Linked DNA regions of Homo sapiens. The protein of the gene in region 2 purifies or fractionates together with the protein of the main gene of each other region. This does not show direct contact. Each region holds a gene or a part of one and is shown on either strand. Other genes may lie near its edges. The genes, in order: PPA1, GMPS, ZNF331, COLGALT1, USP46, OAS1 and MTAP.

Region 1 (4,244 bases), on a different chromosome or scaffold from region 2:
GCAGAGTGAGACCTTGTCTCAAAAAAAAAAAAAAAAAGTACTTTTTATAAGCATAATTGCAGGCCAGGTGCGGTGGCTTACACCTGTAATCCCAGCACTTTGGGAGGCTGAGGCGGGTGGATCACCTGAGGTCAGGAGTTTGAGACCAGCCTGGCCAACATGGCGAAACTCCATCTCTACTAAAAATACAAAAATTAGCCAGGTGTAGTGGCACGCCCCTGTGTTATCCCAGCTACTCAGGAGGCTGAGACAGTAGAATCACTTGAACTCAGGAGGCAGAGGTTGCAGTGAGCCAAGATTGTGCCACTGCACTCCAGCCTGGGTGACAGAAAACAGTAATTGCAGATTTAGCTTCATCTGTGCCCTTTGTAGAGGCTAAAAACTGAAAAACTGCAGTTAAAGTTCTATTCCGTGAAAAAAAATAGTATTCTGAATAATTAAAGCTCAAGTTTAATTAAATAACCTATGGCATATTTAACTCCAGTGTGCAAAATGGGTTGGCAAAGTATGGTTTGTTTTTTCATTGTGTTTTTAAACTGCACATCTGGGAATTTACTCCCTGAATATATCATCTATTTTATAGTAGTCAGTTTAAGGCTATAAGCCAATTACAGTAGAACTATCATTGATTAAAATATTTTTAAAGCATATTCTCTTATCTTCAAGGTCAAAGTCCTTTTCAGGGGGGCTTTATTTCTAAAAACAGCCGAATTGGGAGAATAATGTGGATAATGAAGCTGATGAGTTTTGTTTGATGCTAAAACTAAAGTATGACCAAGTAATTAGGCTGATGTGGGGTTCGTCTTATAAACTAAAGTATGATCAAGTAATTAGTCTGACTTGGGGTTTGTCTTATAAACTGTCTCTGAAATAGAAGCTCCAAAAACATTTTGAGTAATTGCAGTGTCTCTGAAGGAAATAACACTGGCCTTTGGAGAGTGTTTTGAAGATGGTCTTCTTCAGAGATACAGGTTCTGTTACGTTTATTTAAGAACTGTTTCCTTCCTAGGAACATTCTTTCCACTGTCAGCTTTTATTCTGAAACACTTAAAGCATACAGAAAAGTTAAAAGATTTATATAGTAAGTTGGCTGGGCAAGATGGCTCACACCTGTAATCCTAGCACTTTGGGAGGTGGAGGCAGGAGGATCACTTGAGGCCAGGAGTTTGAGACCAGCCTGGGCAACACAGTAAGACCTTGCCTCTATAAAAAATTTAGAAGTAAATAAAAATTAAGAAGAACTATACCGTAAGCAATCATATACTGACCACCTTGATTCTATAATGAATATTTTCCTATAATTGCATTATTTCTTCATCCATCATTCTCTTTTTTTGATGCATTTTGTTGAAAATCCAATTGACTTCAAAGATCTGATACAATGAACAGTTTGACTTTGGAAGAAATAGTGCATGCTCCCTCAGAGAACAAATTGGCTCCTGTGACCATCTCACTTTCTCTTTGTTTTTTCAGGATGTGTTTCACATGGTAGTTGAAGTACCACGCTGGTCTAATGCAAAAATGGAGGTAATATTTCACCTTACATTTGAGTCAGACTTAGGATATTGGTTTTGATCTAGTCACACTGACTTGATCAAGGATGAACCATCTGAACGTCAAGGTTTTTCTCTGTCTGGTCCCAGTCTATTTTCTAGTTGTATCTCCCATTGCCTACTAGTCTTCCCTTTGGGCTCCAGCTAAACTCAACTGTTTACAAATATGCCCCAAACTTTTCTTCCCAACATCTTTGCTTCCAATGTTCCCAAAGCCTAGAATTACTTTTTCTCCTCTTACTCTCTGTAAGCCCTTCACTGACCCCTCCTTAGTCACCCCAGCCACAGATACTCTCATTGGAATTTCAGTTGCATGGTGTTAGTTTCTTTCTGATGATACCTACCATCATTGCCTTTTTGTTATGGATATTTATAACATATTTTATATCACAAACTCTTAACAGTAATCACTTTTTTTGTGTAATAAATACCCAAGTATTTGAATAATTTTAAATTCTGTGAAGGAAAACTAAAATTGGATAATATTTATTTTGCCCTTTTAATAAAAATTGTGGTATTTTTATTACTCAAACATTAGAATTTATTCCAGCTAATTTTAGTCTTTGCTTTCTAGAATTAGTAAATGTTCTTTTTCCCTTCTTGATAGTTCCTTTATACCTCACATAACCTTTCACTTAATGGCCGATTATGGAAACACCTTAGTTCAATTATAAAAGTGTTAGGGATAAAATATATCATTAAAGTGGAATTAGGGAACATAGGTACCATAATTCATTTCCTCAGATCCTTATTTGAATAGTATTTCACATCCAAATATGCAAAGATTTGAAATTTTCTTATTTCAGATTGCTACAAAGGACCCTTTAAACCCTATTAAACAAGATGTGAAAAAAGGAAAACTTCGCTATGTTGCGAATTTGTTCCCGTATAAAGGATATATCTGGAACTATGGTGCCATCCCTCAGGTATGTCTTCATGCAACTGCTGACAATGTACTTTTTAGCTTACTAAATATTAATTTACTGCTATTAGTAAAAAAGGTTTGAATACCTGTGGAGAGTTTTTTCTATGGTAGATTTTGAAAACATAAGAAGGGATAATTAACTCAGAATGCTTCCTTAAATAACTTATTTTCAAGATAAACTAAATATTTACAATGTTTAAATTCAGATTTGAACGTTTATTCTTTCCTGAAATATTTCTTCTTTTTTGGACTGGTTATAAGCTATATAAATTCTCTACAGACTGAGTTGCAAGTCTGTTCAGTCAAGAAAGAGTGTATGGTAGTAGTCAAAAGCACTGATTTTTGGCACCAGACAGACCAGAGTTCAAATCCCAAGATGGCCAATTCCTAGCTTACCTAACTTGCCTCCCTTTCTTTCTCCTTGAGACGTCCATATCGCCTCCCTGAGCTATTCACAGTATGTAGGTGGTATGGTTATTTCAAAAAATAAAGCACTTAATACCTGCACACAACAAGCTGTCATAGCTGCTGACTTTATGTTTAGAGTTTTGATTCCCTCTTCTTCAGGTCAAGCTCTTTGTGGTAAAGTAATGAGAGGATCATGTTTTCTTAAGTAGTCAACCTTTTTTTTTTTTAATTAAAAAAATTTTTTTTTGAGATGGAGTCTTGCTTTGTCACCCGGGCTGGAGTGCAGTGGCGTGATCTCGGCTCACTGCAAAAGCTCCGTCTCCCAGGTTCACGCCATTCTCCTGCCTCAGCCTCCCAAGTAGCTGGGACTACAGGTGTCCACCACCTAATTTTTTGCAGTTTAGTGGAGACGGGGTTCACTGTGTTAGCCAGATGGTCTCGATCTCCTGACCTGTGATCCGCCTGCCTTGGCCTCCCAAAGTGCTGGGATTACAGGTGTGAGCCACCATGTCTGGCCTAATAGTCAACCTTTTGAGAAGGGTTGTTTACCAATTTATTCCCAGCACAATGTCAGTATGTAGTAGGTTCTTATTTGATATTTGAAGAATCACTAGGATCTTATCTATAATGAGTAAATGACATCTATTTAATTCTATTTTGGCTAGGCCAGTGCTGTGGCACTTAAAATTTAATGCTGAGACACTAACTAAATATTCAGTTTAATTTTTTTGCTGTTGATAAATGGTTTGTTTTTATTAACAATGAAGTCTGTTAAATGGAACGTACTATGAAACAACCCATAAGATAGTAGAACATAGGTCTGACCCATCTAGCTTGTTAGGTAAGCACAAAGTCATTTGTTTGTCTTAATTACAGTGTTTCACCTTATACTTTAATTGAAATTTTTTTTTTTTTTTTGAGACGGAGTCTTGCACTGTCGCCCGGGCTGGAGTGCGGTGGCGCAGTCTTGGCTCACTGCATCTTCTGCCTCTCAGGTTCGAGTGATTCTCTTGTCTCAGCCTCTTGTGTAGCTGGGATTACAGGCGCCTACCACCACGCCCAGCTAATTTTTTGTATTTTTATTAGAGACAGGGTTTCACTGTATTGGCCAGGCTGGTCTCAAACTCCTGACCTTGTGATCTGCCTGCCTCGGCCTTGCAAAGTGCTGGGATTACAGGCATGAGCCACCACGCCCGGCCTCAATTGATTTATTAATAGTATTTAGCCTTGATATATCATCCTTGTAGGAGAACATTGCTGAAATACTTACTCTTCTGTGGGTTGGATTTTGCTTTCTTAATGTTGGATTTGTTAGATGTGGTCTTCCTTTATCCCCCTTCTCATTTATCTTTTTGCCT
Region 2 (4,244 bases):
TTATATCTCAATAAAGCTGTTATAAAAATTTTTTTAGGAAAAGTAAATGGTAGAATCCAGATTGAGGACATGGATGTTGACTAAAATTTCTTTTAATTTGCTTGCCAAATAATAAGTATAATGAAGTTCTACTGCTACCAATAACATCAAAATAATGATATATCTACAGGTACTTTTGTTCATCTAAAATTTCCCAAATTAATCAGAGATCGTTGATCCAAAATTTGTCCAAAGCAGAATTTTAGAAATCTGGAGTCCTAAATTTACATTCATAATAGGATTCAGAAGAATTACTGAGACTCGTTCTCCAAATTGCAAATGAGGTAGAAATTAAATTTACATGGACCGCTGTGAGTTTTGAGATTAAAAGGTTACTGTTTTTCCAGTGACAAACGGGAGTAACTAAACAGAAAACTTCACATGTCCAGGCAGCTTTAAAGGTTTGGGAAACATCCCTTGCAAGTGTTATGGCAGACTAGAGAAGATTATTTTACCTTAGGGTCAGGTTCAGTGCTGCTGGCTCACACCACTTTTAAAACACAGGTAATTAATGACACTCAGTTTTCAAGAATTTTAGAATAATACTCTTATTATATAATTAACTCAGAAAAATAATGCTAATGTATACACACTAGACTTAAATTTTAGCCAAATTTTAAATACACATCACTGGGGAGAAATCAGAGCCAAACTCAGAACAATATGTGCTCTATAAATGGAGTGACCATATGGTCCAGTCTGCCCAGGACTCTCCTGATGTACATCTGTTAGTCCGATATCCCACCCAGCTTAACATTTGTCTCAGATTTTTCTTTTTAACAACATACTATGAATAACTGCCTTAAAGTAAAATAGGACGGGTTTGTTAAACTTTCACCTTATATCTAATACCACCTTCGGCTATGGCTTTGTCTAGTGTTGTGTGGGTTGCAAGCATAGTAAACAGTTCTCATTTTTAACTTCTCGTTCAGTCTGAATGCCAAATACTGGTAACACATCCTTCCTTACTCTTTTCTAATAAAATCAAGTACTCTTGGACACAGGCAATTAAGGATAGCTAACTCTATCTAGTCTTGGGTGATGACAGGAGAAATATCTGAAGTTGCTATTCCTGCCGGCTACTCAGTGTACCTCCCAGTTGTGTTACAGCCACTCCTCACCTTGCAAGATGCACAGGAGCCTCGAGGCCATTATAAGCTGGGTCACTGGGAAATATGGGGTATTTGTGTAACACATGCAGGAAAGAGATGTTATATGTCCCTGTGTATAATGTACAGAAGACAGTAATCTGAACACTCTTGCCACAGGAGTTTTGCCATTTACTTACTAATTGTATTGTGTAAATCTACAATTTTTTTGTATGTAATATTTTATTTTGCAGCAATTATTATAAATTTAAATTTTCCACACCTTCTTTTTTTATGCTCATGTGCCCCAGTTTAGAGATCTTATTCCCTTTCACATTATAACAATCTTAATGAGTGTATAGACTTAACTATATAATCTCCTAGGTCCTCAAAACCATGAACCTGAAGCCATAGCAAGGGTCCACCAACAAGAAAACCAATTGACTGTTATGTTTTTACTATAATAAAGCAATTTTTTTAACCACCGTCCTTCTTGAGCAAATACAGAAGCATCTCTATTCCACAATAAGCATGAAAAAAATAATATTCTACGCAACCCAGAATTGTATATGCCACACAAAGATTTAAAATTCTATGAAACAATTATTTTTCTGTTGATTCACAAAGTGCTTCAGAATTATGCATTAACCCTGACACTTTCATTCATTTTCAGCATCTAAATATGGTTTAGGTTAGAAAGAGGCATAAAAACAAAGTTTAAGGCCAGGGCCGGACACAATGGCTCACGCCTATCATCTTAGCACTTTGGGAGGTGAGGCCGGTGGATCACCTGAGCCCAGGAGTTCGAGACCAGCCTGGGCAACATGGTGAAACCCCATCTCTACTAAAAATACAAAAGTTAGCCAGGCACGGCGGCATGCGCATTTAGTCCCAGCTACTCAGGAGGCTGAGTCAGGAGAATTCCTTGAGCCTGGGAGGCGGAGGTTGCAATGAGGGGAGATCATGCCACTGCACTCCAGCCTGGGTGACAGAGCAAGACTTTGTCTCAAAAACAAACAAAACAAAACACAGGATTTAAGGCCAGGCACAGTGGTTCACACTTGTAATCCCACGACTTTGGGAGGCCAAGGTGAGCGACTCACTTGAGGTCAAGGGTTAGAGACCAGCCTGGCCAACATGGTGAAACCCTGTCTCTACTAAAAATATAAAATTAGCCGTATGTGGTGGCACACGCCTGTAATCCCAGCTACTCGGGTGGCTGAGGTACAAGGATCACACAAGGATCACTTGAACCAGGGAGGCGGACATTGCAGTGAGCCGAGATCATGCCACTGTACTCCAGCCTGGGCAACAGAGCCAGACTCTGTCTCAAAAAAAAAAAAAAAAAAAAAAAAGAAAACAAAGTTTAAGAATGTACTACAACAGCAAAATTTGATTATTCTGGGTAGCAAATAATTATTCATTACTTCAAACAACATCCTTTGGAATGTAATTCATTAACCTTAAAAAAGTATCAAATACATTTGTACAAGTATAAGACAAGTCTATACTTTTTGTAAAAATTCTTAAAAGACTGAATTATTTTCCTTAAGTGACAAGTTGGCCCACGCTAAAGGCAATGTCATCCGAGATTCCTGGAGGAATTTCAAAACCTTTCAGGTCTAAGAACACACTACACTAAAAACCATTCCTTTTGTCTGCAGCAGTTCTTCCACTCTAAATGAATATCCTAACGGAATAAAATCTGAAAAATCTAACTTTTATCTAAGAAAAAAATTTACTAAGTTGTGACAAAAGGTGATATAGTTGTTTAATTCTCAGTACATCCCAGATAAAAATCCCAAGTTATATTCCCATTCCATTCAAAATCTTAAATTTGGAAATTCCAAACTTAAAATTAACATTATTAAATGCCATTAAAGATTCTGTATCACATGCAATCACTAAGGGAGAGTTTATAAAACATCTTTCATCCAAGTATGATATAACCTAGTCATAACCTCTCAATGATAGGACAGGTACCACCTTTACTCCAACCAAGAGTTTCACCCTTAGACAGGGGAAAAGAGTAGGAAACTTGACAAGTCACCCAAAGCATTACTCTGATAATGCTGCCTTAATAAAACTCAAGTTACTATGTCAAATACACCCCTGCCATAATAAAAAGTTTTTAAAGAAAAGCTGATCACCTATGCTGTGAGGATGCAAAGGCATAAGAATGACACAATGGACTTTGGAGACTCAGGGGGAAAGGGTAGGAAGCGGGTGAGGGATAAAAGACTACATACTGGGTGTTGTGTATACCGTTCGGGTGATGGGTGCACCAAAATCTCACAAATCACCACTAAAGAATTTGCTCATGGCTGGGCATGGTGGCTCACGCCTGTAATCCCAGCACTTTGGGAGGCTGAGGCAGGTGGATCACGAGGCCAGGAGATCAAGACCATCCTGGCTAACACAGTGAAACCCTGTCTCTACTAAAAATACAAAAAAATTAGCTAGGCATGGTGGCGGGCGCCTGTAGTTCCAGCTACTTGGGAGGCTGAGGCAGGAGAACTGCGTGAACCTAGGAGGCAGAGCTTGCAGTGAGCCGAGATCACACCACTGCACTCCAGCCTGGGCGACAGAGCTAGACTCCATCTCAAAAAAAAAAAAAAGAACTTACTCATGTAACCTAACGACACCTGCTCCCCAATAACATACGGAAATAAAAAATTTAAATAAATAAAATACTGGCCAGGCACAGTGGCTCACTACTGTAATCCCAGCACTTTGGGACGCTAAAGTGGGAGGATAGCTTGAGCCCAGGAGTTCCAGACCAGCCTGAGCAACACAGCGAGAACTGTCTCTACAAAAAATAAAAATTAGCAGGGCGGGGTGATCCACGCCTGTACTTCCAGCTACTCAGGAGGCTAAAGAAGTCAAGGCAGCAGTGAGCTGTGATCACACCACTGCACTCCAGCTTGGGTGACAGAGCAAGATCCTGTCTCAAAAAAATAATATAAATTAAAAATTAAATAAAATATTGTGTATAAAAAATAATTAAAATAACCCAAATGCTTTCATAGCTTTTAGGCCCCTCTCCAGTTTCTATCATGCAAAAACGCCGTTTTAGAAAATCCTGATAACTGAAATGTACCAGAAACAGGAATCAAA
Region 3 (4,244 bases), on a different chromosome or scaffold from region 2:
AGACAGAGCTTGCAGTGAGCCGAGATCACGCCACTGCACTCCAGCCTGGGCGACAGAGCAAGACTCCGTCTCAAAAAAAAAAAAAAAGAATCAATATTGTTAGTATTCCATGCCATCATATAGCAGACCATAATTTAACCCATCCTCTACTGTGAGATACTGCTATTTTTTTCGTTGTTGAAACTGTATTCTCTGGAAATCATAGATAAGATCAAGGAGGGAATCTGTGTCACTATCCTGGCTGTGATACTGTACTGCAGTTTTGTTTTTCTTTTTTTTGAGACGGAGTCTTTCTCTGTCACCCAGGCTGGAGTGCAGTGGCACAATCTCAGCTCACTGCAACCTCCACCTTCTGGGTTCAAGCAATTCTCCTGCCTCAGCCTCCTGAGTAGCGGGGATTACAGGCTCCCACCACCATAGCCAGCTAATTTTTGTATTTTTAGTAGAGACGGGGTTTCACCATGTTGGCCAGGCTGGTGTCGAATTTGTGATCTGCCTGCCTTGGCCTCCAAAAGTGCTGGGATTACAGGCATGAGCCACCATGCCCGGCCTGTACTGTAGTTTTATAAGGTATCACTACTGGTGTAAGTCAGGTTAAGGGTGCACTGGATCTCTCTGTATTATTATTTACAACTACATGTGAATCTACAGTTATCTCAGTTTTTTAGAAAAATAACTTACCTAGAAAAAAATTTTTCTTGATCGCTCTTTCACATACATTTATGTACTTCTGTTTTCTTGTCTTTCTAACTGTTTCCTCCTCCTGGACCCATAAATTCCACATGTGGAATTTTGAGTCAAAATTAGATGTTTGTTAAGGGCCCGCACTATGCCACACCCTGTGACGTTAGTACTTGGAATGAGAGCGTGACTAACGGGGCATAACTGCTGCCTGCACATTGTTTACAATCCAGCAAGCAAGGGGCACCGAACAGCAGCTCGGGCAGCCTGTGCTGTGGCCTGCAGAGAATTCCAGGTGACGCCCCAGAGGGCCTAGGAGAGGATACCCTTCTGAGAACAGCCGTGGCTCGCCCGGCATCACCCCACTCAAGAGGCCAGACGGGGTCCCAGCTGGGGTGACACAGCGCCAGTCACATCCACTCATGGACACTCAGTAGGCCACACTCCCGATCACCCAGCCACAGTCCTAGATCAGTCACTGACTCACAGTCTGCCACTTGTATTTCCATTGTCTCTGGGCTTCCTCTGCCTTCACCTTCCAACAGTGTGGTACCTGCCTGAGAGCAGCGGCCCCCAGTGGGACATGAGAGCCAGGACCCTGTCATTAACTGAACCAACACAAAGGGCACAGCCATTGTCATAGATAAGTGTTCAAGCCGGACGTGTTCTCCGTACCGGCTCCTGTGTCACAGTAACGGGAAGCCTCAGGAGTGGGAGTCCTTGTGGAGGGAGAGGTGACTAACTTGGTAGGTGAGTGTCGGGAGCATCACGTGTTCTAGAATCCAGTAAATACACGTTAGTCCCCAAGAACTCTGAAACTCACAAATGCCAGTGTCCTCTCCATTCGGATTGGTTTCGGCTGTGGCCTGGGGACAGGCGTGCCCTGGAGGGTATTTGCTAATGCAGCCTGTGCTCCAGAAAGACCCTAGGTTCTCATTCTTCCTTTCCCCTAGGCTGGCATCCTTCAGAAAAAGCATCCTGAGGGGGAAAAAAAAAAAAAAAAAAAAATTATTATTTAGGTTGGTGCAAAAGTAATTGCGGTTTTTGCCATTATGTCTAATGTCAATTGCTTTTGCACTGACCTAATATTATATATCTGAAAGTCGGCTCTCCACATGAGTTACCTTTTTTGTTCATTAAATGATTTGTGTTTATATGACTTAGGACTCTTTACTCTTTATGGCCCCAAATATCCTCCCTAATAGCAATTTATCCCAGTAATTCCTCCCCAGGGGATGTGGCAAGGGCCAGGCAGGTATATTCCTCTCTGTACCCCCTGGTTGACCAGCCCTCTCCTTTGAGTATCCACAAACCCATTTGTCAAATTGTTGACATCCTGCTGTGTGCTCTGGTTTTCTAAGATCTGATGGTATAGAAAAATCCCCCCTAAAAAAAAAAAAAACAACTCCCTCCTAGAGGTTCATGTTAGCGCGCTTTATTTTACAGTGTGCTTGGGTAAGGAGGGGATTCGTTTTTAGGTGGAGTCAAACACAGATATCTTTGGTCTTTTCCATGGGACTGATTTTTAGAGCACAAGAAAAGAGAAAGTTAGTTTGTTTAGTCTGTACCTGGCAAAGTTGTCAGTTTTGTGAGGCCTTTAAGAGCGGAGTTTGAGCTAATTTCTGTGTCATCAAAGGCAGAGATGTTTTTCAATATGCAGTAAATCGAAATTTGTTCTATTCACTTGGACTTCTTTGGGCGGACAGCTTCTGTTTTTCTTCAGTTCCCCGTTTGTGTGAACTGTGAGAAACCATATGGTTTAATGTTGAGTATGAGTTCTGGATCTAGGGCAGAGGTTGGCAGCTGTCTTCAATGGCAATTTGTGTATGTTTATGGTCTACAGAGGCTTTGATCTGTGTTTATACTGCAGATTAAATCAAGCTGATTAACATATCCCTCCCTCAACTCACTGATAATCATATTTGCAATGAGAACATTTAAATCTAGTCTCTTGGCATATTCAATATTATTCATTATATTTAGTCACCATGCTAGACAATAAATCTCCAGAAATTATTCCCACTTTATCTCCTTTAATCTTCTCATTCCCCATCACCCTCCCAGGCCCTGACGACCACCTCTCTTCTTCTGTGAGTTGGATTTTTTTTACACTCCACATGTAATGACATCATGCAGGATTTGTCTGTCTAGCTTATTTCACTTAGTACAATGTCCTCCAGATTTACCCATGTTGTCACAATAACAGGATTTCCTTCTTTATAAAGGCTGGATGGCATTGCATTGTGTTATCTCTACCACACTTTCTTTATTAATTCCTGATGAGTATGTAGGTTGATTCCTTATCTTGGCTACTGTGAATAATGCTACTGCAGTGAACACGGGAGCACAGGTATCGCCATGACATACTAATTTCATTTTCTTTGGATATATACCCAGAGTGGGATTGCTGCGTCATCTGATAGTTTTAGTTTTTTCAGGCATCTCCACGGTGTTTTCCATCATGGCTAATTTACATTCTAACCAACAGTGTATAAGGGTCCTCTTTTCCTCACAGCCTTGCCAACATGTTATTTTTTTTGTTTGTTTTTTAATAAAAGCCATTCTTACATGTATGAGGTGATATCTCATTGTGGTTTAACTTTTTGTTGCCCTGAATAATAGTAGTGATCCTGAGCAATTTTTCACAGACCTATAGCAATTTGTATGTGTTCTATCAAGAAATGGCTGTTCAAGTTTTCTGCCCATTTATTATCAGGGTTGTTTGGTTTTTTGCTGTTAAGTTGTTTGAGTTCTATGTTTTGTCATTTTTGTTTGTTTTTTTTTGTTTGTTTTCTAGACAGGGTCTTGCTCTGTCATCCAGGCTGGAGTGCAGTGGTGCAATGACAGTTCACTGCATCCTCCACCTCCTGGACCCAAGCAATCCTCCTACCTCAGCCTCCCAAGTAGCTGGGACTACAGGCACATGCCATCATGCCCGGCTAATTTTTCTTTTCTTTTCTTTTCTTTTTTTTTGAGATGGAGTCTCCCTCTGTCACCCAGGCTGGAGTGCAGTGGCGTGATCTCGGCTCACTGCAACCTCCGCCTCCCGGGTTCAAGCGATTCTCCTGCCTCAGCCTCCGAGTAGCTGGGATTACAGGCGCGTGCCACCACGCCCGGCTAATTTTTTTTTTGTATTTTTAGTAGAGACAGGGTTTCACCCTGTTAGCCAGGATGGTCTCGATCTCCTGACCTCATGATCCACTTGCCTCAGCCTCCCAAAGTGCTGGGATTACAGGTGTGAGCCACGGTGCCCGGCCAATGCCCGACTAATTTTTCAATTTTTTGTAGATATGGGGTCTCACCATGTTGCCCAGGCTGATCTTAAACTCCTGGGCTCAAGCAGTCCTCCCATCTCGGCCTTCCAAAGTTCTGGGATTACAGGTGTGAGCCACCATGCCAAGCCCTATTTTGGATATTAACCCCTTATCAGATATATGGTTTGAAATAGTCTCTCCCAATCCATAGGCTACCTTTTCATTTTGTTTCCTTTGCTGTGTGGGAGATTTTTAGTTTGATGTAGTCCCATTTGCTTATTTTTGCTTTTGTAGGATGATCTGGTGTGA
Region 4 (4,244 bases), on a different chromosome or scaffold from region 2:
GAGTGCAGTGTCACCATCATAGCTCGCTGCAGCCTTGAACTCCTGGGCAATCCTTCTGCCTCAGCCTCCCAAGGAGCTACAGATTTCCCCTTTTAAAAGCACACAAGCCATGTGGATTAGGGCCCACCCTAATGACCTCATTTTAACTCGATGACCTCTGTACACAACCCTGTGTCCAAATAGGATCATATCCTGGGGTACTGGTGGTTGGCACTGGGGAGACACAGTTCACCCCATGACATAGTGCATGATCTCATGACATCTCTTTGTGAAACCTCTCAGTGGCTTATTGGCCCATTTTATAGATGAGGAAAGCTGAGGCCCAGGCCAATCAAGAATATACAGCATGCCATCATTTCTTGGTTCATTCTACAAGCAATTACTGAGTGCCTGCTGTGTGCCAAGCCCCTGTGTTGGGCACTAGGGGCCCAGTGTGAGCAGACATACCTGGTGTCCTTCCCAAAGGGCTCACAACAGACAGGCACAGGGCCAGGGGGTTAGGGCAGCAAGGATGCGAGCTTTGGTGGTGCAAGTCCAGGTGCTGCTGGGGCCCAGAGGAGGTGCCTGGCTCAGCCTAGGGAGGTGGGAGTGGGGAGGGTGACCCCCATGCCCAGGGCATCATAGCTGAGAAGTAACGTTACAGAGCAGGGAAAGGAAGGGTATTTCAAGCAGGGATCCAGCATGTGCAAAGGCCCTGAGGTAGGAATGGGGGTTCTTTGGGTTGGCAGGGGCATAGAGGTGGGGCTGGGGGGTAGAGTGAAGCTGGAGCATGGGGCGTGGCCAGGGCTTAGAGGCAGGGTTGGGGGCGGAGTGAAGCTGGAGCCCAGGGCGTGGCCACGGCTGAGAGTCGGGGCTGGGAGCAGGGTGAAGCTGGGGCCTGGGGTGTGACCAGGACTTAGAAGCGGGGCTGGGGGTCGGAGCGAAGCTGTTGCATGGCCAGGGTTTAAAGGTGGGGCTGGGGGGGTGCAGGGTGAAGTTGGAGCCTGGGGCATGGCCAGGGCTTAGAGGCAAGGCTGGGGGAGGCTGTGGGGTGAAGCTGGGGCCTGGGGCGTGGCCAGGGCTGAGTGGTGCGGCTGGGGGGCAGGTTGAAGCTGTAGCCTGGGGTGTGGCCAGGGCTTAGAGGCGGGGCTAAGGGCAGGGTGAGGCTGGGACCTGGGGCGAGTCCAGGGTTGAGTAGCGGGGCCTTGGGCGCGGTGAAGCTGGGGCCTGGGGTGTGGCCAGGGCTGAGAGGCAGGACTGGGGGCGGGGTGAAGCTGGGGCCTGGGGTGTGGCCAGGGCTTTGGGCTGCTGTGCAGGGTTCAAATGACATGGGAGGGGCTCCTAGAGGGCAGCGCTGATGTGGGCGGAGCCAGGTCGACTTTGTGGGCCGAGCCAGTCTGACTGGGAGCCATGGAGTGGGTGGGGAAAGCGTGTTGGAGAGAGGCTGGAGGCTCCTTACCCCAGCGACTCCTCAACGTCTGTGCCCCACAGTGAAGCACCCGCCCGCAGAGCCCTCCCGCTTCATCTCGGCTCCCACCAAGACACCGGACAAGATGGGCTTCGACGAGGTGAGCTGGGCCTTCCCTGGAGGCGGGGCGGGGGCTGGAGGGCCCTTGTTTGCAGGGGCTGATCTGGCTGGGGACTCTCCGGGCTGCAGGTCTTCATGATCAACCTGAGGCGGCGGCAGGACCGGCGGGAGCGCATGCTGCGGGCGCTGCAGGCACAGGAGATCGAGTGCCGGCTGGTGGAGGCCGTGGACGGCAAGTGAGTCCGAGGCCTGGGGGTGGGGGGGCGGGTCCGCACGTGGATGTGGGTGTAGACCTCGCTGGTAGACGGCAAGTGATTCAGATGGGGGCGGGCGTGGTGTCCAAACAGATGTAGACCTCGTCAGTGGGCGTCCTGAAGGGGAAGTGAATGGGACCCTGGGGAAGGGGCAGATCCTCACAGTTGTAGACCATGGAAGGCAAGTGAGTCCTGACCCAGGGGAATGGGTAGGTTTGCATGCTGCCAGTGTAGACTGGTGGGGACTGTGGAGGGGTAAGTCAGTCAGACCCCAGGAGAGGAGGAGAGCAGGTTTGCCCGCGAGTGTATACCATGTGCAGGTGAGTGAGGCCCCATGTGCCCGGAAGGGGTGCCAGTGCTACAAGAGGTGGACCAGCTGCTCAACGCCGCAGGGGGTGGTGGAATGGCCGGGGATGGCAGAATGGCAGGCAGGGTGAACCTTCTTCGTGACCCTCTCCTCCTCCTCTCCAGAGCCATGAACACCAGCCAGGTGGAGGCGCTGGGGATCCAGATGCTGCCTGGCTACCGGGACCCCTACCACGGCCGGCCCCTCACCAAGGGTGAGCTGGGCTGCTTCCTGAGCCACTACAACATCTGGAAGGAGGTGTGTCCTGAGTGATGGGCGGGGCCAGAGTTATGACTCTAGATCTCATCGGAGATTTGGACGGGAAAGGGGTTGAAAGAGTTCCCCAAAGCCCCGGCTAGGCATCCAGCCTCAGCCATGGGACCCATGGCCTCTCTTTAGTGAATGATGCGCCACACCAGCTGTATCACCCCCAGGTGTACCTGCCATCCTTCCATTGCGCAAATGTGGAAACTGAGCCTGGGGGTAGGGGTGAGCCCTTTTGAGCAGCAGGTGGTGTCTGGGGCCTGGGACCTGTAAACAAATCCTCATTACTCCCAGCCTGGTCTCTGTGCTTGATGTTTAGTACTAGAAGTCATGGCCACAGAGCCACTTTAAACCAGCACCTGCCCAGTGCTGCTGGGGGCACTCACCAGCCCAGGCATCCTCATCCACCCTCAGAGGGAGAGGCTGTGATTGGAGGAGGGTGTCTGACTAGGCTTCGAACTTGGGCCATCAGGGCCGGGCATGGTGGCGCACACCTGTGGTCCCAACTATTTGGGAGGCTAAAGTGGGAGAGTGGCTTGAGCCCAGGAGTTAAGGCTGCAGTCAGCCAAGATCGTGCCACTGCACTGCAGACTGGACAGCAGAGCAAAACCGTGTCTCAGAAAAAAGAAAAATGGCTGGGCGTGGTGGCTCATGCCTGTAATCTCAGCACTTTGGGAGGCCGAGGCAGGCGGATCACCTTAGGTCAGGAGTTCAAGACCAGCCTGGCCAACATGGTGAAACCTAGACTCTACTAAAAATACAAAAATTATCTGGGTGTGGTGGTGGGCACCTGTAATCCCTCTACTTGGGAGACTGAGGCAGGAGAATCACTTGAACCCAGGAGGCAGAGGTTGCAGTGGGCTGAAATCATGCCATTGCACTCCAGCCTGGGCGACAAGAGTGACACTCCATCTCAAAAAAAGAAAAATAAAATCCGGGCGTAGTGGCACATGCCTGTAATCCCAGCTGCTCAGGAGGCTGAGGCAGAATTACTTGAACCTGGGAGGCGGAGGTTGCAGTTGAGATCGTTCCACTGCACTCCAGCCTGGGCGACAGGGCGAGACTCCGTCTCAAAAAAAAAAAAAAAGAAAAAGAAAAGAAAAACTTGTTATCGAATGTGAAGCCAAATGGGGGTGTGCGGCTGCAAGGCGGGAGGTGCATGAGGCGTGGGCATTTGAGGGGCTGGGAGGCCTTTCTCTTCTGAGATCCATTATGGACGGCAGAGGGCAGAGGTTTGGATGTCCAGATGTCCCTGGAGCTAGGAGAGGCAGGGAGATGCACTGGCTTCTCTACGGGTCTTTCAAACCTTCTCAAAGCAAAGCTCTGTGCTTTAGGGTCAGGCCTGGCCTTGGCCTCCCTGTGATGTGGCGGGGCTTCCTCCCTCAGGTGGTGGACCGGGGGCTGCAGAAATCGCTTGTGTTTGAGGATGACCTGCGTTTTGAGATCTTCTTCAAGAGACGTCTGATGAACCTCATGCGGGATGTGGAGCGGGAGGGCCTGGACTGGGACCTCATGTGAGTGGGGGTCTGAGGATGGGGTGAAGCTGGGGCCTGGGGCAAGGCCAGGACTTAGAGGTGGGGGTGGGGGCAGGGTGGAGCTGGGACCTGGGGATGGGTCATGGCTTAGAGGCGGGGCTTGAAGGTGGGGTGGAACTGGAGCCTAGGTACATGGCCAGGGCTTAGAGGTGGGGCTGGGAGGCGGAGTGGAGCTGAATCCTACGGGCGTGGCCACAGCGCTGCAGCTGAGCCTAGAGCCTGTATGTCTGGGTGTGGTCAGGGTGGCAGGCGTGGCCAACCCTTGGAAGCGTAGCAGGAGGGCTCACGTGGTTCCTGGGCCTGAAGGCACTGTCAGGGCTGTAGCCTATAGGGAAGGG
Region 5 (3,586 bases), on a different chromosome or scaffold from region 2:
CCCAGGGCACCTGTGGGTGGACAGAAGATTGTCATCGGAATACATGCTTGGGCCCAATTATGGGAATAAAACCTCATAGACCAAGAGCAGGGAATGTGCCAGTAAGTGTTGAGTCTCCCAGCTGCTGTCCATCTTCTCGGGGCAGTGCAGTTGAACCTGACTGAGCTGGAACAGAGACTGTTGGGAAGGTCACTTCTGTCTGCCACGAAGGCCAAAGGCAGAGAAGACCTTCTTGGGACTGTGTTTTTCTTTCCTAGGCCTCACTTTGTCCTGGGATTTATAGGACAGGCCTGTCACTACCAAGGTGACACAAATTCTAGAGAATGTATTTTCCCATTTCTTCAAATTTCCTTTCCTCTCTTTTTATTGATACTTAAAATACCTTTACTAAAAAAATGAAGCCTTCCATTTCCATTCCCTTATATTTACATGAAGATAAAAATACTTACTAAGTCGTTGTATTTGTCCATTCTGGCAGTGCTATAAAGACATACCTGAGCGTGGGTCATTTCTGAAGAAAAGAGGTTTAATTGGCTCATGGTTTTATGGGCTGTACAGGCTTCTGTTCTGGGGGAGGCCTCAGGAAACTTACAATCAGCAGAAGGCAAAGGGAAAGCAAGCCCATCTTACATGGCAGGAGCAAGAGGAAGAGAGCAAAGGGGGAGGGGTTACACACTTTTCTTTCCTTTTTTTTTTTTAAGATGGAGTCTCACTGTCACCCAGGCTGGAGTGCAGTGATGAGATCTCAGCTCACTGCAACCTCTGCCTCCCGAGTTCAAGCGATTCTTCTGCCTCAGCCTCCCAAGTAGCTGGGACTACAGGCATGTGCCACTATACCCGGGTAATTTTTGTATTTTCAGTAGATACAAAGTTTTCTCATATTGGCCAAGCTGGTCTGGAACTCCTGACTTCAGGTGCCTCAGCCTCCCAAAGTGCTGGGATTACAGGCAAGAGCCACCTTGCTCGGCTGGGGTTACACACTTTTAAACAACCAGATCTCGTGAGAACTCAGTCATGAGGCAGTACTAGGGGGATGGTGCTTAACCACCTATGATGCAATCACCTCCCACCAGGCCCCACCTCCAACACTGGGGATTACAATTCAACATGGGATTTGGGTGGAGACACAGAGCCAAACCGTATCAGTCATTTTTCTTTTACTGAAGGAAAATTTTGGTTGTGGGGTTAGTACTAAAGATAGCCCATGTAGACTTTTTCTGAAGATACCCCAAGTGGAGAGATTTTTAATTAGGCATTTATTTGGCACCTATTGCATTCTAGGCATTGTGATAGGAGCTGGGGGATAAAAAGGTGACACAGATTGGGTCCCTCTTATGGACTCGTTTTTTGTCTCAGAAGACAAGTCTGGGTGAGAAAGAAATTTAAAATTTAAGTTGTGGAAATAACACGTGTGGGGGAAACTCCTTGCAATTCAGCACAGTTTGGTATTCAGCCCCAGCCTCAACATGCAGATGGCACTGTTGGATGAAGCCACACCATCTTTTTTCCTGGGAGCCCCACACTCTTCCCAGCCTGCCTTCTAGCTCAGGGACAACACATTTTGAAAAACAAAGTATAAATCGATTATGTTGCAACAATGAACTTCACGTTTTGCCTCTTCTCATGTTAAAAGAGCCAGTATCATGAAAGCCTCAACAGTGAGCTTTATGAATCAAATATCTGTTATTTCTAAACAATCTGTTTACATTATGACCAAATAATTAGAGCCTATCTAGACTTACCAAAATAAGATAGGGCATAAGCGATTTATTGGTGCATCAGCCTTTGTTTGCTTTTTAAGGTTCCTTTATGTTTTAAAGGGATTTGAACAAAAGACATCAGGAGCTTACAAAGGAAAAATAGCTTCATTTTGGTTATGAGATACCAGAGTCAGAAATGACATTAGATTGTATAGAAAAGACTTCTAATTGTGTGCTTACTTCCCACATGATTATAATAAACTATATATTAACAACCTTGGGATCGTACTCAGGTTGTCAATTACACGGATGCATCTTTCACTTTTTTCTTTCCCAAGAGTGAGAGAAAGAGTGAGGTTGTGCTTAAGGCAGTGTGGAATTCTACAGAAGCTCTTCTTGGAAAAGGAGTTCAGGCACTTGTGTTGTAGACTGCAGTCTGATTCTGTTCTTACTTCCTCTCAGCATAAGGGAGCTTTGAAAAGAAAACTCAGACTTGTATCCGACTTGACCAGAAGCAAAATAACTTGATCATTGAAGCCACTATTTCTGTGTATTTGATCAAGTCCTCCTCTGGAATCCAATGCAGCCATATTCATATTTCGGTCTCTCTTAATGGACCTTGCTGGAAAGAACATTCTGTGCTAAGAAAATGGAAAATAAACGTGAGAAAACTTTAAGAATGAGCCTTCACACCTCCTGCAGCAGGTGATAGCTCTGTACTTCAGAGCTTGTCTCCAGGTTGAGAATTACCTGTTTTCCACTCTGAGGGGATTAGAAAGATACTGTTTTAATGGGTTATAAAACTTGTGTGAAGAAGATTGGCCTTCTCCACCTCTCCTGTGAAATAAATTGTTTGAAAACTCTTTGAAGAGAAATGGCTTCAGTATATTGTTCTATCTCTGCTACCCCAAAGCCCAGAGAACAAATATTAAGTATAAATTGCTAGGCTAGGTATGTCATATGTGGCAGCTTTGACATGTAAACCAAAAGACTGAGCCAAGTCTCAATCAATGTACAGGTTATTTTGCCAAGGTTGAAGACACACTAGGGAAAAGAGACACAAGCTACAGTATGATCTATGGCCCCTACTTTCTCCAAAGAGGATTTTGAGGGCTTCAGTATTTAAAGGGGAAAAGTAGGCAGGAGGAGAAAGGAGGAAAGAACAAAAAAAAGAGGGAGAGCATGGTCACATTCTTAGGAGGCTTTGATTCACACTCACTGAATCCATGTGTTGCACGTGGCAAGGAATGGGTAGAGGAACAGTCGATTATGTATGTCCCCTGCTCAGTAAAACTGCACTTTACAAAAGATAAACAGAATAGGGGAAGAAGTCAAATATGCATTTATCTCAGGCTGGGCAGTGGGGATGGTTTGTACTCTCCTCTTGTCCCATACTTGGGGAGGCCACCTGGGGAGACATGGCCTCTTGTAGCTATCTGTTTAGGAACAAAAGGAAAGACAGTGTTCTGTGACCCAGCTTCCAAGCTTAACTTTTCCCTTTGGTATAGTGAGTTTGGGGTCCCAAGATGTTCTTTTCCTTTCACAGATGTATGACACTTCAGCAGAAGGGTGAAGGCTGTAGAAGGGAGAGAAAACCCTCTTCCTGTATGGCTATTGATTGACTTTGACTTTTAACTGATTATGTCATCTGAGGAGTCTGTGAAGGTTTATGAAGAATGAATTCACCATACAACCTCCCCTCAGATGGAAATGTGTACATAATGTAGAAGAATAAGGGGCTGTGAGTTTCGGGGGTAAGAGGAGGGGAATAAAGTTAAGACTCCTAATACTGCTTAGCTTCTAGCCTTGGGTCTTGCCGCAACGCCTGCCCAACACCTGTGTGTGTGTGCTTTGCAAGGTTAGCTGGGACTTAGGTAGACCCCACT
Region 6 (4,244 bases), on a different chromosome or scaffold from region 2:
GAGCCCAGGAGTTCAAGACCAGCCTGGGCAGCAAAGTGAAACCTCATCTCTACTAAAAATTTTAAAACATTAGCCAAGTGTGGTGGTACATGCCTGTGGTCGCAGTTATTCAGGACGCTGAGACTGAACGATCACATGAGGCCAGCCAAGGATTCGAGGTGTCAGTGAGCCACGAATGTACCACTGCACTCCATCCTAGGCACAGAGCAAGAGCAAGACCCTGTCTCAATCAATCAGTCAATCAGTCAAAACTATGAATTTCCCAGCTGTATATGAAGGCACCTCAAAACACCACAGTGAACTCACAGAGGGACACGGAATAGTTTAGATTTTAATTTTTTGAGGGAAATGCGATGACATCTGTCACACACCGCACAAACGGCTACTATTAAACTGAACTTACTGATTAGTGGCTACTAATTAATAGTTGGTCATTAAGCAGTAATTAGTGATTAATTATCAAGTAATTAGGACTTAATTAAAGGAACTGTCACAGTTTCCTTTAGTCCTAGGGCAGCCATGAAAAAAAAAATGCTGACTCTCCAAAGACACCAGGGTATGAGAAAGTTTTGGATTCTCTCCTTTGTGCCATCTCCTGTGTTGGGGGCTGAAGTACAATGGTTGTAAAAGACAAGAGGGAGAAGGCTGGTCACAGTGGCTCACGCCTGTAATCTCAGCACTTTGGGAGGCCAAAGTGGGGGGATCACTTGAAGTCAGGAATTCAAGACCAGCCTGGCCAACATGGTGAAATCTCACATCTACTAAAAATACAAAAATTAGCTGGGCGTGGTGGTGTGTGCCTGTAATCACAGCTACTCGGGAGGCTGAGGCAGGAGAATTGCTTGAACCCAGGAGATGGAGGTTGCAATGAGCCAAGATCATGCCATTGCACTCCAGCCTGGGCAACAGAGTGAGACTCCATCTCGAAAAAAAGAAAAAAGAAAAGAATATAAGGAGTGATTAAAAAAGAAAAGAAAAGAAAACTAAGTAGGGTGAAACAATAGATAGCCATGGGGGTTAGGGAGCTTTTTTAGACAGGGTCGTGAGGGAGGGTCCCTGAGCCTGAGTGGCGAGAAGGAGTGAGCCTTGGGGAGATCTGGAGGTTCTGGGAAGAGGAATGGCAAGTGCAGAGGCCCTGAAGCAGCAATGACCATGGCACATTTGAGGAAGAGAGAAAAAGTCAGAGAAGTAGAAAGTGGGCAAAGGAAGCAAGACAGGAGGTGAGGTGGGAGAGGTTCCAGAGACCAGATCACACCAGACATCATTGGCCACCATAAGATCTTTGGGTTTTAAAATTCCAGATGTTATGGGATGCAGGAAGCAGCATGATCAGCAGCATTCTCTAGGTGCCAGGTTGAGAACAGGCTGTGGGGGAACCTGTAAAGAGGTTGCTGCCATAGTTCCGGCGAGTGACGGTGGTGGCTTGGATGGGGTGATGGCAGTGGAGAGGGCAGGAGGGAGGATCAGGAATGGACCTCAAGACTTCCCAGCCCTGGGTCTGCTGCACTTTTCAATCAAACCCCATGGCCAGGGAGATTGTCCCCTCAGAGTGACTGAAGGAAATTCAGAGAAGAGCTGACACCTAAGTTGTAGATTTTGCCCGAACAGGTCAGTTGACTGGCGGCTATAAACCTAACCCCCAAATCTATGTCAAGCTCATCGAGGAGTGCACCGACCTGCAGAAAGAGGGCGAGTTCTCCACCTGCTTCACAGAACTACAGAGAGACTTCCTGAAGCAGCGCCCCACCAAGCTCAAGAGCCTCATCCGCCTAGTCAAGCACTGGTACCAAAATGTATGGCCCTCCCACCAGGCCTGGTGGGTCCTGTCTCGACTGGGAGCAGAGGAGGGGTGGGGGGAGGAGAGAAAGAAGGGAGTGAAGGGAAGAGGAGGGGGAGTGGTGGAGGGAAATAGAGGGATGGAAAAAGGAGAGAAAGGAAAAAGAGGTGGAGAGAGGAGCCTGCAACAGAAGGGAGAATGAAAGGGAAGGAAGAGAGAAAGGAAGGGATTTTGGTGTTCTGTTCACTGCTGTATCCCCAGAACTTAAAACAGAGCCTGGTGCATAATAGGTGTAAATAACTGTTGAATAAATGAATCAATGCTACATACACACACGCACGCACACACACACAGAGAGAGAGTCAACCACACTCTTCAGAAGGTGGATAAGTTAAAACAAGAGTTTCAAACAAATATATGTTCAGATGCCCTTTCCTCCCACTTACTGGCTGGCTGGCCTTAAGTAAGCAACTTAACCTTTCTGTTCTTTCTGCTTTCTTATCTGCAACGAGTAGCATGCCATAGCTAGAGTAACACGGCATATAGTTGGTCCTGATAAATGTAGCATATTTTAGCCACCATAGGAGTACACATAATAAAAGCTAACATGTAGTATGTGCTTAGCTTATCTATGTTTTGTGGATGTGATACAATTTTCTGTTCACTTTTAAATGCCCTGCATCTTAGTCAATTTTAACAGTGATTCTGTAAGTTAGATAAGGTTAGGCATTATTATTAAATCCATTTTACACCAAGAGAAACTTGGGTCAAAAAGAGAAACTCCTGGGTCACATGGCTCATTCGGCCAATAAGTAGCAGAAGTAAAATTTGAATTTGGCTGGGCGCGGTAGCTCACACCAGTAATCCCAGCACTTTGGGAAGCCAAGGCAGGTAGATTGCTTGAGCCCAGGAGTTCAAGACTAGCCTGAGCAACATGGCAAAACCTCGTCTCTACAAAATAAACTAAAAATTTAGCCAGGTGTGATGGTGAGCACCTGTAGCCCCAGCTACTGGGTAGGCTGAGGTGGGAGGATCGCTTGAGCCTGGGAGGAGGAGGTTGCAGTAAGTCAGGATTGCACTACTGCCCTCCAGCCTGTGAGACAGAGCAAGATCTTCTCTCAAACAAACAAACAAACAAACAAACAAAAACTCGAATTTGGGTCTATTGACTTAAGAGTTTGCCTGATAATAATAGGCATTCAATGTATATTTCTTGAATGAACGAATGAATGAAAATAATCAGGAATAAACTTTCCAATTTAAAAGTAACACCTCTAGGTAAAAAAAAGACAATCATTTAGTTGCCAGACTTCTAAGTGTTTGCTGTTCTATGAATTGTAATCATGGAGCCTGAGCATTGTAGAATTTACAAAAGCAGTTCCTGACAAAAGCAGCACTGCCCCCAGGGACATATTGAAAATTAATGAGGGTGTTTTTGGTAACCATGGTGATGGGAGGACATGGGTGCTACTTATATTTAGTGGAAAGAAGACAAGAATGCTAGTTATTGTACAATGATCAAGAGAGTCCTGCACAGCCAAGAATTGTCTTTTTCTTTCTTTCTTGATGCTGTTCTCCTTTAAAACAAGACAAGATTAACAATAATTTAACTCCACTAACCACCATCATCACCACCTCCAACTTATATGCTACATTTCTTGTATATTTCAAGTCTGTTTATATTTTCAAGTGCCTCGAAGTATTATTGTTTTATAGCCAAATGTTTAGTTAATCTGCTCACAGATTTACCACTTTCTTCACTATTCATTCTGTCTTACACCTCTAACATTCCATCTGGGGTAATTTTCCTAAATGATCATGCATCCTTTGGGATTTCTTTTGATGATGGTCTATTGGTAGTAAACTCTCTCAGTTATTGTTTGTCTGAAAATGTCATGCTTTTGCCTTCATTGTTGAAGGGTGCTTTTGCTGGGTGGTCATTTCAGTATATTGAATATATCATTCCATCTTCCAGTGTCATCATTAAAAAGTCAGTTGCCAGTCTAACTGCAGCTCTTTTATAAGTAACCTGTCTTATTCTTCTGGCTGCATGTAAAAGTTTTCTCTTTGTCTTTGATTTTGTTTAGCTTCAATCTGCTGTGTCTTAATGATGGGTTCCTATTGTTTGTCCTGATTGGGATTCCGTTAAGATTCCTGAATCTGTGGGTAGATATCTTTAATCAGTTTTGAAACTTCTCAGCCATTCTTCTAAAATATTGATTCTCCTTCATTCTCTCCTCACCTTCTAGAATTCCAATTAAATGTATGTTAGACCCTGCTCTATCTTTCATATCTCTATACTCTCTTCTGTGTTTTTCATCCTTTTGTCTATTTTTCCATGCTTTATTCTGAATAGTTCCTTCTAATCTACCTTCCAATTAACTAATTTTCTCTTTAGCTATATCTAATTTGCTGTAATTAATTACAGTTGCCATTTTTATCCTAAAATTTCTATTTCATATTTTTG
Region 7 (3,717 bases), on a different chromosome or scaffold from region 2:
GGGCAAAAGTATGGGCATTTTTCTTGCTATGTTCAGAAAGTACAGTTCTCTCCAACTTGCAGAGGTACTTTTCTTGATTAAATAGCCTTCTCTAGCAACATCATTTTCAGACTAACTAAATGAATGCAGTATACTCTTTTCTTTGTTCTCAATCATTCACTCCTTATGCAAAGCCAATATAATTTTCCTCATACCTTATGCTTGAGGATATTGTTGAAGAACACTTCCTGGAACACTTCTCACTTGTGATGCTGTACTAATTTTTTTTTTTTAATTTAAGCTAGTATACTAAGTGAACACCATGGTCAGTTGTGAGCATTTTGGTTTCCGCAAAGGATGGATGGTGAGCATCATGGGAAAGCTGTAGTTTAGTGACTTAGCCCTTAGTGATTAATAGATTTGCATGTACATAGAAGTCTTTGTTGGCCTTATAATCTGCTGTTATATTTGGCATGGATTTTCATGGTTTTGAGAATGACATCCTGGCCCTGTGGTCCCCGAGGGTCATGGTCCTTGTGACCTGGCCCCTGTTCACTGCCCCCTTCGCTAGCACGAGTTGCTGTGCAGGGCTGGAGGTAGCTACCATGGCTTGTTTCAAGGAAGGAAACTCTGGTACGGTGGCACCCTCAGGAGTGGAGGACAGTGAACTTCCTTGAAGAGGGAGTGACTAAGGTGACCTCCAACCTGCCCTGAGCCAGCTGCCCTGCAGGTGCCACGTGAGCCTGCTCTGGCATCCACAGGATGCTCCTGGAGCCTCTTCTCTGGCTGCTACCTCAGGGCATGGTTGTGGCCCCACCAACACCTATTTTCCAAATAATTATTCATTCTTGTGACAGTGGCCTGAACATGTTTTTAATTTTCTCAACAAGCATTTAGCCAGCACTTATCCAGTGAAACAATTTGATAAGGTTTCAAGGAGTATCTGATGGGTTAGGAAGTCACGAAATGAGGAGTTCTTGCCACATTTGCAGAGTCCCTCCTTGATAAGGTTTGGCGGTGTCCCCACCCAAATCTCATGTTGAATTGTAGTTCCCATAATCCCCACATGTTGTGGGAGGGACCCAGTGGGAGGTAATTAAATCATGGGGGTGGTTACCCCCACACTGCTGTTCTCATGATACTGAGTTCTCACAAGTCCTGTTTGTTTTATAAGGGGCTTTTCCCCCTTTTGCTCAACACTTCTTCCTGCCATCATGTGAAGAAGGACGTGTTTGTTTCCCCTTCTGCCACGATTGTAAGTTTCCTGAGGCCTTCCCAGCTATGTGGAACTGTGAGTTAATTAAACCTCTTTCCTTTATAAATTACCCAGTCATGGGCAGTCCTTTACAGCAGCATGAGAATGGACTAATACACTCCTCAAATGTTTTGAAGATTGTTGCACCTTGGAACTACCAGTGTGCACACAATCTGGCTCAATGTATATATTGGCCCAGCAAGGCAAAGAACTGAAGTTCCAGGATGGAAGAACCTGTGTTCTCCTCATAATAGTATAGAATAATTCAAGATAGGCAAGAAGGACAGCAGTAAATGAAGACCATGGAAGAAAAGAAGGAATGCCAAAGATCGAGGAAATCTACCAAGACTAGTAGGGTAGTCCAGAAGAAGCTGTTTCAGGGCCTGTTGCCAGCTATGCCTTTGAGAACCTCGGGATCCCAAAGAATGAGGGGAATTTCTTCAGAAAGACAATCTCGGCATGCATTATTTCTTTGTTTTGAAGATTCACTCATGTTGCATGCATCTGTAGCTTGTGCCTTTTTTATTGCCTAGTAGTATTCTGTCATATGCCTATCTTACAATTTGATTATCTATTCACCTGTTGATGAATGTTTGAATTTTTTCCATTTGAGGAATTTTATGAATAAAGCTGCTATAAGCATGAAATTACAAGTCTTTTTGTGAACATATTTTCACTTGTGCAAATGCCTATACTCCCACCAGTAATTTGTAAGAATTCTTGACAAAGCTTGGTATTGTCAGCGTTTTTAATTTTAGCCATTCTATTGGGTATATTTTGATATCTCGTGGTTTTGATTTGCATTTTTCTGATTAAAGATGTTGAACTTCTTTTCATGTGCTTATTGGCCATTCACATATTTCGTGAACTATCTGTACAAATATTTTTGTTTATTAAAAAATTAGATTGTTTTGTTTTATTATTGAATAGTAAGAATTGTTTATATATTCTGGATACACTCTTTTTCAGATATGTGTGTTGTGACTATTCTTAGTCTTTAGCTTGCCTTTTCATTTTCTTAATTATGTCTTTCAAAGAACAAGTTTTTCATTTTGACGAAGCCTAGTTTATCAATTTTTTTTATGGTTGGTGCTTTTTGTGTGTTCCAAGAAATCTTTGCCTACTCATTTAATTACCTGTGTGCCCTTGTCAAAATCATTTAATTTTGACTACTCACTTAATTACCTTGCCTACTCATTTAATTACCTGTGTGCCCTTGTCAAAATTTACTGTTTATCTGTGAATCTGGATGATCTATTTATGTCATTTATCTATGTGTCTCTTCTTATGCCAGTACCCCACTGTCTTGATTATTGTGGCTTTATGGTGTCTTGAAATTAAGTATTGTTAAGCTTTGCAATCTTTTCCAAGATTGTTTTGGCTATAGGTCCTTTCTTTATAAAGTTTATATTAAGCTTCTCCATTTTTCTTTAAGAAAAAATCTGCTGGAATGGCACTGAATTTTTAGGTCGATTTGGGAAGAATTGACAATATTGAACCTTTCAATCGATGGACATGGTATGTTTCTGCATTTATTTGGGCCTTTTAAAATTTATCTCAGCAATATTTTGTAGTTTTAGTGAAGAAGTCTTGTATATATCTTTTGTTAAATGTATTCCTAAATATTTTGTGGAAATGTTACTGTAAATAGTACTTTAATTTCATTTTTAAGTTTATTGCTGGTATACAGAAATATGTTTTATTTTTGTATATTGACTTTATATTCTGTAATCTTATTAAATTCACTTAGTTCAGTAGTAGTTCTTATTTTTATTTTATTGCAAGTGCCTTAGGGATACCTTGTGTACACAATCATGTCATATATGAATAACAACAGTTTACCTTTTGTTTCTTCTTGCTTTGTCGTAATGGCTAGGACCTTCAACCTAATGTTGAATAGAAGCGGTGTGTGAGTTGTTACTCTTGTCTTATTCTCAACAGCAGAGGATAGCGTCTAGTTTTTCACTATTAAAATATGTTAGCTATAGGTTTTTTCCGTTTCATGTTTTTATCAGATTGAAGATCCCTTTTATTCCTATTTTGCCAAGAGTGTCATGAATGCATGTTGAATTTCACCAAGTACTTTTTCCTGCATCTGTTGAGAGAATCTTGACTTTTCTCTTTTATTTTGTTAATGTAGATTCTTTAATGTTAAACTGATCTTGCATTCCTGATATAAACCATACTTAGTCATGATATGTTATCCCCTTTATATAATGCTGGATTCGGTTTGCAAATATTTTGTTTGATTTTTGCATCTATGCTCATGAGACAGATTGGTCTGTGATTTTCCTTTCTTGTAAGTCTTGTCAGGTGTCAGGGCTTGGTTAATTTTGACACATTTACAAACATATATTTTTAAGATAAAAATAAACTTCAAAAAAAAAAAGATGACGACAGCCTGAGTTGTTTATATACAGAATTTGTTAACCAAAAAGATTGAAAAAGGCTGGAACAGCAGGTTACATTTGATACCTGAAAAT

What was found.
Region 1: the proteins of GMPS (region 2) and PPA1 fractionate together in Homo sapiens (co-fractionation; one large-scale study listed by BioGRID). This does not show direct contact.
Region 3: the proteins of GMPS (region 2) and ZNF331 purify together in Homo sapiens (co-immunoprecipitation; one large-scale study listed by IntAct). This does not show direct contact.
Region 4: the proteins of GMPS (region 2) and COLGALT1 fractionate together in Homo sapiens (co-fractionation; one large-scale study listed by BioGRID). This does not show direct contact.
Region 5: the proteins of GMPS (region 2) and USP46 purify together in Homo sapiens (co-immunoprecipitation; one large-scale study listed by IntAct). This does not show direct contact.
Region 6: the proteins of GMPS (region 2) and OAS1 purify together in Homo sapiens (co-immunoprecipitation; one large-scale study listed by IntAct). This does not show direct contact.
Region 7: the proteins of GMPS (region 2) and MTAP fractionate together in Homo sapiens (co-fractionation; one large-scale study listed by BioGRID). This does not show direct contact.

The regions. Positions count from the first base shown.
Region 1 is NC_000010.11:70,216,047-70,220,290, reverse strand, and holds part of PPA1 (inorganic pyrophosphatase), read left to right. Parts: intron 1-1,473; coding exon 1,474-1,527; intron 1,528-2,359; coding exon 2,360-2,479; intron 2,480-4,244.
Region 2 is NC_000003.12:155,873,140-155,877,383, reverse strand, and holds part of GMPS (GMP synthase [glutamine-hydrolyzing]), read right to left. Parts: intron 1-4,244. UniProt on the Homo sapiens protein: Catalyzes the conversion of xanthine monophosphate (XMP) to GMP in the presence of glutamine and ATP through an adenyl-XMP intermediate.
Region 3 is NC_000019.10:53,544,473-53,548,716, forward strand, and holds part of ZNF331 (zinc finger protein 331), read left to right. Parts: intron 1-4,244. UniProt on the Homo sapiens protein: May be involved in transcriptional regulation. May play a role in spermatogenesis.
Region 4 is NC_000019.10:17,575,725-17,579,968, forward strand, and holds part of COLGALT1 (procollagen galactosyltransferase 1 precursor), read left to right. Parts: intron 1-1,470; coding exon 1,471-1,547; intron 1,548-1,636; coding exon 1,637-1,743; intron 1,744-2,232; coding exon 2,233-2,365; intron 2,366-3,757; coding exon 3,758-3,885; intron 3,886-4,244. UniProt on the Homo sapiens protein: Beta-galactosyltransferase that transfers beta-galactose to hydroxylysine residues of type I collagen. By acting on collagen glycosylation, facilitates the formation of collagen triple helix. Also involved in the biosynthesis of collagen type IV.
Region 5 is NC_000004.12:52,589,949-52,593,534, reverse strand, and holds the end of USP46 (ubiquitin carboxyl-terminal hydrolase 46), read left to right. Parts: 3' UTR 1-2,575; downstream 2,576-3,586. UniProt on the Homo sapiens protein: Deubiquitinating enzyme that plays a role in behavior, possibly by regulating GABA action. May act by mediating the deubiquitination of GAD1/GAD67.
Region 6 is NC_000012.12:112,909,443-112,913,686, forward strand, and holds part of OAS1 (2'-5'-oligoadenylate synthase 1), read left to right. Parts: intron 1-1,608; coding exon 1,609-1,793; coding exon of another isoform or gene 1,794-1,816; intron 1,817-4,244.
Region 7 is NC_000009.12:21,864,091-21,867,807, forward strand, and holds the end of MTAP (S-methyl-5'-thioadenosine phosphorylase), read left to right. Parts: 3' UTR 1-2,991; downstream 2,992-3,717. UniProt on the Homo sapiens protein: Catalyzes the reversible phosphorylation of S-methyl-5'-thioadenosine (MTA) to adenine and 5-methylthioribose-1-phosphate. Involved in the breakdown of MTA, a major by-product of polyamine biosynthesis.